Regions from separate parts of the Homo sapiens genome. Here regions 2 and 3 are each linked to region 1. The links come from fine-mapping of genetic effects on gene expression. A gene starts in region 1. Each other region holds a variant in brackets. All regions are shown on one strand. Distances are from middle to middle.

The links.
Region 2: its variant is fine-mapped to the expression of FUBP3 in whole blood (TOPMed, PIP 0.95).
Region 3: its variant is fine-mapped to the expression of FUBP3 in breast (GTEx, PIP 0.98).

The regions. Positions count from the first base shown.
Region 1 is chr9:130,577,686-130,580,529 of GRCh38, reverse strand. FUBP3 (far upstream element binding protein 3) reads right to left here and starts at 953. Exons shown (of 19, transcript NM_003934.2): 1 at 766-953. The coding sequence starts at 849. LOC100272217 (a long non-coding RNA gene) reads left to right here and starts at 1,036. Exons shown (of 1, transcript NR_027440.1): 1 at 1,036-2,844. It overlaps LOC124902286 (a long non-coding RNA gene), which reads right to left and starts at 690. Exons shown (of 2, transcript XR_007061818.1): 1 at 282-690. RefSeq lists a silencer at 636-1,005.
Region 2 is chr9:130,637,531-130,640,374 of GRCh38, reverse strand. It overlaps FUBP3 (far upstream element binding protein 3), which reads right to left. Exons shown (of 19, transcript NM_003934.2): 19 at 2,023-2,844. Among named protein-coding and RNA genes, the nearest start is that of MIR6856, 13 kb to the right of the region's middle. RefSeq lists an enhancer at 1,528-2,123. The variant G/A (reference allele first, on the strand shown) is at 1,144.
Region 3 is chr9:130,632,687-130,635,186 of GRCh38, reverse strand. FUBP3 (far upstream element binding protein 3) reads right to left here. Exons shown (of 19, transcript NM_003934.2): 17 at 449-520. Among named protein-coding and RNA genes, the nearest start is that of MIR6856, 7.6 kb to the right of the region's middle. RefSeq lists an enhancer at 2,227-2,500. The variant C/T (reference allele first, on the strand shown) is at 1,520.

The DNA.
Region 1 (2,844 bases):
AAGTAAGTTTTAGATACAAATGAAGAACACGTTCTGTTCTAAGTACCATGCCAGAAGCCAGTAAGTATTTTTGGCAGGTCCCATATTCACTCTCTGGGGAAGCCTGGAGCCTTCTAAAACCCAGTTAATTTAACTTTGATTAAATGCACGACATTGTCAGACAGTAAAGTTTCAATGTCGGAATGAGGCCATATCATTCTCCCCAGTAGAGGCAAGCTTGCCATGAGAAATTTCTACATCTTGGGGACCACCCCCACACATGTAACACCTCCCTCTCTCACCTCTCCAAAGAGCACCCTCACATATAAGATGCCCTCGAGTTCCTTCTACTCAACAGAAAGTCTAAAGACGATGTTCCCCAAGTTTTAACAAGCTACTGGGCGTCAGACAGCTGCTTTATGTCTACACCCAGATCCTCCCCGTGGGCTTCCCGGACCCCTCCCCTCGCGAGGTTCAGAACCCCGCGCTAGCTACACTGTGGGTCCAGGCTGGCCGCTGGGGCACGATGGGGCCAGACGCTCTAAGCAAACCCTTTCCCAGCGACTTCAGGCACCTGGGAGACCCGCCCGACAGGCCGGGCCTGGGCCTCGCAGTGGCGCCTTATCCCCCCGGCTCCTCCCGGCTGTAGGAACTCCACGGAACGGCCCGGCCCGGCTGAGACGTCGGTTCAGGCTGCCTCCCGCCCCCCAGGCCCGAACCCCTCTTCCCCGCCCGCCAGGCCCCGCCTCGGGATCTCGTGCTCCTGCCAGCCGGCTGCGCCCGTACCTGCCGGACCCGGTGCAGGGCATCCACGAAGCCCTCGGCCTTCATCCCCACAGGAGCGCTCTGCCCCTGCACCAGCTCCGCCATTACCGCCCCCGCCGCCGTCGCCGCCGCCGCCGACGCCGCCGACGCCGCCGCTCGGCTCCCCGGTCCGGCCTCCCGCTCCGCTTGGGGACCCGTAGCCGGAAAAGGAAAGTCGCCCTACTTCCGGCGGAAGGGAAAGCCGGGACGCTCGCAGCTGGAGGAGTCGCGTCTGCGGGGCGGGGTCAGGGCACGTGACCTTCGACCGATCGGAAGTGGGGGCGGGACGGCAGCGCCGGGGTGGGCTCAGATCGCCAGGCAGCCGTGGGTCTCCAGGGTCCGGTCGCGACCCTTCCCTTCCCGGGCGGGATTTGGTCCAGGACCGTCGATGGCGTCTTGACAGGTCCCCGAGGCTTGGATGTGGTCCCGAGGTGTCCGCTGTCGGCCGTTTGGAATCTCAGAGGGACTGACGTGGCTCTCCCAAGACGGCACCCCGAACAGTCGTGGTTCATCAAAAGCCTGGTCCTGGGTAGCCCCTCCCTGAAATGGCTGTTGGTTGGGAATTTGGGGGCTGAGCGCTTTGAAAGGGCATTGGGACAGCATCACAGAATGTCAGTGTCCCACATTTGCGAGGAGTCCCGGGCCCCAGTTCTTACACTGCAGTTTGCATGAGGATGGGCCACCGCCACTTCCGCCTGGGGTTGTCTGGTGATGCCCCCAGGAGAGACGCGCCCACTGAAAAGCCAGCGTGGTGTCCTCTTACACGGTCCTTAACAAACTCTGGGACTCTGGGGGTGCAGGAAATACCACAGGACCGTCATTACTCCCATACCGGCTGAGTCACAACTGTATTGCAGGAGGCTTCTTGGAACGCCTATGTAACTTTAATGGAAGTGACCAGGTACAGATCTTCTACAGCAAGGAAGGAATCTTAGTGCTAGAATTCAGTTGAGCCTTTGAGTTGGCTCTTCTTATAAGTGAGCAAACAAGTAACAAGGTTTAGGGGGCGCCCATTTTTGTGTTAGCACGATTGCCCTCGTGTTTAATATTTCCCAAGCCCTATTATGATAAGGAGTTGGACTTAATGAAGAACCATGTTGTCAAACATCTTATGCCCATCTTGAAGTTGTGAAGGAGGATGAGCACCAAGAAAAGGAAATAAATAAAATCCAATACGGGCCGGGTGCGGTAGCTCACGCCTGTAATCTTAGCAGTTTGGGAGGCCAAGGCAGGCAGAACTCTTGAGCCCAGAAATTCAAGACCAGCCTAGGCAGCATAGTGAGACCCCGTCTCTACAAAAAATATAATTAGCTGGGCGTGGTGGCAAACACCTGTAGTCCCAGCTACTTGGGAGGCTGGAGTGGGAGGATCACCTGAGCCCTGGAGGTCAAGGCTGCAGTGAGCTATGATCACGCCACTGCAGTACAGCGTGGGTGACAGAGCAAGACCCTTTCTTGGGGAAAAAAGTCCCATATAACTTTCCTTGATGACCCCACCCTCACCCCTCACTGTGTCATTATGCCAAGAGAGCTTTGGGCATTCTAAAGAAGTATGAGGAATACTTGACCAATAACCAAAGTATAGTTATTTATTTGTTAATGACTTCTTTCCTAGACTGTGAGTTACTTTAGAGCAGAGACTTATTTTTCCCTGTATCCCTAGGGTGTGGCACATAGTAGGTGCTTAGTAAACTTATTTTGCATTCAATAATGCCAAGTAGAATAATTCATAGATTATGGCAAAATAAAAGAATTTGGCAAAATTGCAAGATTGAAGATTGCTTTCAGAAAAAATGTTCCAACCCCTGTTCAAAAGTACATAGCTTGCTGTGTTGTTGAAGTGCCAGCACGAGGAGGACCATGCCAACACATCCATTTATTGCCCATTCTGGGTGTGTTGAGCGTTTTAAGTTTGCTATGCTTGTAAAAATCAAGGAATGGCAATGGTATCAACTTTCATGAACACAGTCGTTCAGCTGAACCAAGTATCAGTGATAACTTCTGTTTTGAATTTTAGAAATATATCTCTGAGGTTAGAATGTTGATTCATGCATATTCCAGC
Region 2 (2,844 bases), 60 kb before region 1:
TTCTCATGGACCAGGCACTGCACTGTGCCATCTGTGCCCCAGCCGACCCTACCTTGGGGGCTCTGGGACATCATGGGTGGTCACCACTGTCGAGTGACCCTGGAAAGATGGTGCCTCCTATCTGATGGGAGGCCAGGGGTACTGATTGAGGCCCGCTGGCTGAGAACTCCTCAACCCCAGCCCAAACTTCTGGGTGGGGCTGGGATCGGCTCAGCAGGGTCCTTGATGGATCCTGAACTTGGGAGGCTGGCAGAGACCCAGTAGGCATGGGCGGTGGCGGGTGGGGGTGGGGCATGCATTCAGAAGACAGACTGGGCAAGCGCCCGCCCCGCCTCCCGGACCCCGACCGCCCTTACAGTGATGACCATGCATCTTTCTTAATGGAACACAACCGCTGAACTTGGTACATTTCAAGCACTTTAGCCTCCAGTACACCAGACTGCTGATGAAAATCATCTTCCTTGGGCGCCATGTTAATGAGAGGCCAAATTTCATATGCTTGCAAACTTTCCCCCCCCGCCTCCTGTCGTACCACACCCCCTCCCCCCAATAAAAGATTGCATCAGAGAGAAAGAGAGATTTCCATAATTTATAGTATGGGCATTTCACTGGGGACAAGCGCTAATCTGTACTTACCGATACATTTAAGAAAATGCATCCTCCGCAAGCCTGCGCCATTTATGACTCTTGGCACAAACCACAATGCTCAGTCTTCAATTAAGGGACACCTTAGGGTTCATTATCACACAATCGCTCCCTGTGAACCATGCCAAATGCTGTTTTGGCACAGAGCTTGGAAGATGAATTAGAAGGAAGTCTTCTCTGTAATGCCCTCTCCCGAATTCCCATTACCGTCATCAGCGTTTACGCCCTCCTCCCACTCGGCCCCCTCCCCCCACTTTCCAAGTGCCTTTTACTATTCAATTTCTCAACGTCAAACTCGATTCTCTAGAGGTGCAGTTAAAAATGCCACATCTCCTTTTTGTCTTCCGGCTCTCAACAGGCCTGCCATGGCCGCAGATGGGCTGCTCTCCACACCCCTTTTCGGCCTGAAGGAGCCACAGCTGCTTTTTTCCCCTCCTGTCAGAAGCTTGGAGTACAGACAAGGGGCCGGTATTGGCCAGGCACAGCCCAGCAAGCCCC[G/A]TTCAGGATGGAAACAGGTCTCTATATCTAAGTAGAGACCCGCACAGAAAGCCTGAGGGCGAAGGCAGGGCCCCTCAGACGTGAAAGCAGACACTGCTCAATGCCAGTCACCCCAACCAACGGGACAGAAGGAAAAAAAAAGGCGAGGGCTGATGCTATTACTTAATGCCCTTCCAAGTCTGAGGCCCACACTGTCGCCACGAGTCCTAAGACCACAGGACTGTAACTTAACACCTCTGGGGAAGGACGCCCCATTTGTTTCTTCATGAAAGGACAGGACATAACGAGCACGTGTGCTGATGCTTCCCAGCCCTCCTGGCGATCTGGTGTCCCACCGTGGGCACGGGGCTAAGAGCGAGAAAGCACCACCACCACAGCCACAGGTGAGGCTGGGGACAAGGAGGTGGGGGATGCAGGCAGCAACAGTCAGGGAAGCACACCGCGCCTAGGGCAGCCCACCTACATTTGCAGGCGAATGTGTGTGCATGGGCACGCAGGGAAGGGGAGCGGGCGGAGGGCAAGGGGCTGCCCAGTCAGTCGCAGAAGTCTGCTGACCCGCCGCACGCCCTTCAATGCATCTCCCAGCTCCATCCGATGACACTCCCATACTGACTTCTCACTTACAGATGCCTGACTGTGACAGGGAAGGGGAGCTGAGCCCAACCACGGCTCTCAAGTCAAGCTGTCAAATCATACAGAGCCATTAACATAAAATTAGCTTAACGAACTAGCTAGACATCTAGACTGTGCACCAACGAAGGCGGGTGGACGCGGTGCAAGATGACGGGCGAGGCCCGCAGGAATCCTCTTTCCCTCTCGGGCGGCCGCGGGCAGGGGCAGAGGGATGAACCGGCGAATGGAAAGCAAACAGGCCAGAAAGACTTTGCCCACAAGATGCCTTGTGGAGATTTTATTATATAGAGTGTAAAATGAATTGTCAGTCAAATAAAAAGAACACTTTGTTTTCTTAAAAACCCCATGCATAACATTTTCCAATTGTCTTTTTTAATAGTTAGACATTTCAAGCATTATAAGAAAAATAAGGAGAAAAAACCAGAAACTGTAACTTCAGTACATTTCAAACGGAATGTCCCTCAGGTCAATTAGAAATGCAAGAAAAAATAGCTTCAATTCCGTTTTTTTTCCTTTAAAAATACATGTTATCTGTACAAGATACACTACAGTAAACACTGGAAATCATATTATCCCTTTCATTAAATCAAAATTATTTAATTCATAATGCGGTTAATACTAGATTTATTTATTCATCTAGTTAATCTGACAAAATATTAAGAAAATATTTAAAAGAAAAAAGCAAACAACACCTTGGAATTAAAAATAGTTATAACTACATTTTTATACGGTTTAATGTTCCACAGTGTGTGTTAAAAGTTATATTGAATTTCTTAATATTAAAAATAACAGTATTTATATTTCTGAGATAATAGAGAAAGGTTTTTTGTTTTGTTTTAAAAACAAGCTTGGAGGTCTTAGATACACAATTGCAACTGGTAATGGAGGCATGAGAAAAACGTAGGCTAAACACACGAGCACATTTTTATATTACCCCTTTCGAACTCTAGAAATTATACAAACCCTACAAAATGCCCCTCCCAACCCCTGTTGGACAGCAATACAATTATCTGTCTCAGTTCAGAATTCACATCATTCATTACAATACATAATAGTTCAGTTTTTTTA
Region 3 (2,500 bases), 55 kb before region 1:
CCAGGTAAGGCCTCCTTCCCTGAATCTCACCACCTCTCCTCATCTGCCCTGAAGCACCAAGACAGAGAACAAGATGTCTGGTTGGTCTGTTTGCCGGCCAGGTGGCACCCAGCCGGAATCTTTCAGTCCCTAAGGAGACCAGACGCCAGCTGAGCCCACACTTCCAGGTGCCACGCCCACCTCAAGTCCTTTGGAGCCCAGCACGGGGAGAATAAAGAGGAGGGGATGTGCCGAGTCGCAGGGCAGCCTGTGGTCACTGACTGACTATGCCCAGACTCCTGACAGAAAGAAGCAGGCAGGTACAGGGTGGAGGACGAAGGCAAATAATGAGATCAAGCCACACAGGGAAGGCATTAGGGAAAAAAGAGGTGACAGTGAGCCTTGGACTCTGAAGTCTCTGGGCTGGAGGGGACTGTGCTGCCACAGGTTAGGAGGGCCGGGCACTCACTCTGTTTTTTGTAATAGTCTTCCCAGGCCTTGCTGTAGTTGGGCTGGCTGCTCTGCGGCTGGCTCTGCTGGCCTGTGCGAAGAACACAAAAGCAGTCAGGCCTTACGGGCTCCTCACAGCCTCGGCCCCAGCCCGCCAGCTGCAGGCCCTGCCCTGCACTCCTCCACCTCGCTCCTGGCCACACACGGCTCCGCAGCCCTGCCTGGGAAGGAGGTGGCAGCTGGCAGGGCTGGGGGAAGGGGTGTAACTAAGATCACTGTAAGGGTGGGGCTGGGCACACGAGGCAACTAGCAAGGCTAGCCTGACCCTCTTCAGATGGAGACGCAAGCTTGACGGCCACAGCCACTGCTGTTCTGAGGCTCCCCAATCAGCCTTCCAAAGGACAAAGACTCCAGAGGCTGCTGACCACTCTCTTCGCGTGGCCCTCTGTTCAAGGCCTGGGGGCTGTGCCTCTGGACCAAGGGAAGTGGAGGGGCCATGTGGAGCAGGGGTAGGCAGCACCAGTGGGCTCCTGGACCCTGTCCAGCCTCAGGCCAGCTGGGGTAGGGCAGAGGGAAAGGGGGTGCATGTGTTTGGGTGGTCCAGCCCTTCTCTTCTGTGCAGGACCCTGGGTTCACCCTCTAGGCTATGTGGGCAGTGAAGACTGGGGGACGCGGAGAAACAGCCAGCATGGGGGAACAGAGCCTCAGCACCCTGCCAGGCACAAGAGGGGGTTCAAAGACTTGACCACAGTGGCGGGTCAGGACCTCTCCTTCTGCCCAGGCCGGGGCTGGCTCAGGTGTCCACCTGCCAAGGCCCACAAAAGACCCCCTCACTGTCTCGTCTCCTGTAAGGATTGTAGCCTGAAGCAGGGAGGAAGGGCAAACCACTGCAGAGAGCATGCAGCCAAATGCTTTCTCCACTAGTTCACTTTACTGCATACTGAGGAGCAGCGTGGGGAAGAAGCAAGCAGCGGGAGGAAGGAGGGAAGGAGACGCCCCGCTTCCTCCCACAGGGGCAGGGCGAAAGAGGGACACAGGCAGCAAACACTCTTCCCTCGGACGCGGAGGGCGCCGGCAAGCAGGACTTCGC[C/T]GCCAAACAGTATTTCACCAACCCAAACCGGTTCTCCACTGCAAAACCCCTGAATAAACAAAAAAAGCCAAGCTCCACAACATGAGATGAAGGCTGCCCAATGGCGGCAAGACCACCGGGTGCCTCCTGCACTCTCCCTTCCTCAGCCCACAGGCCTCTGCCCGTTCCACCCGCCAGGGGGCCGTTTCCCCTGAAGGCCTCCCAGGCCTCAGTGTCCCCAGAGTCAATCCTGGCCACCTTGCTGCCTGGAGGATTATCTCAGACTAGAACAGCAGGTGAGGAGCCGAGGAAAGGAAACAGGGTTAGCCCCTATGGCCAAGCGAGCAGAGGGAAAGGGGATGGATGGTGGGATCTGGGTGCCTTGTGGGTGCTCACTGCAGAGTGTTCTAAGATATTTGAAACGTTTCATAATAAGATACTGGGGAAAAAAAGGGAAGAAACACAACTATACAATTTCAGAGCATGCAAGTACTTTAGAATTCAAACCCAAACCCTTGATTTTACATGTGGCAAAGTGGAGCTCCAGAGAAGGCAGGGCGTGCCTAAGGCCACACAGCACTGGCCTCAGGACTCTGTGTAAGGCTGAAGTGGCAGAACCCCAGAAAGGGGGCTCAGGCCCTCCGAGCCAGGCTGTGAGGCGGGGCCTGCGGCCTGGGTGCTGTGGGAATCTGCAGACACTGAAGAAGCCTTTCTAAACACAGGACAGAAACTCCAGATGGGTCAAAAGAACGTGGATCGTACTAAGGTAAGGGTTCTGCTTTGCTTTGTGAAGGCCATGCCAGAGGGGCTAGACCAGCTCTGAAACCCAACAGTGGTTCCTGAAGCGTCTGTGGGGACAGAGAGGGTGGCGGCTTTGATTCCCACCAGGACTTTCTCCTTCACAACCAGCCTCCCTGGAGAGGCGGGATGCAGAAGAAGTCATTCCCTAGCTGTTTGCTTCTGAAAAGTTCAGGAGATGGAAGCCTGAGAGGGGAGAGGAAG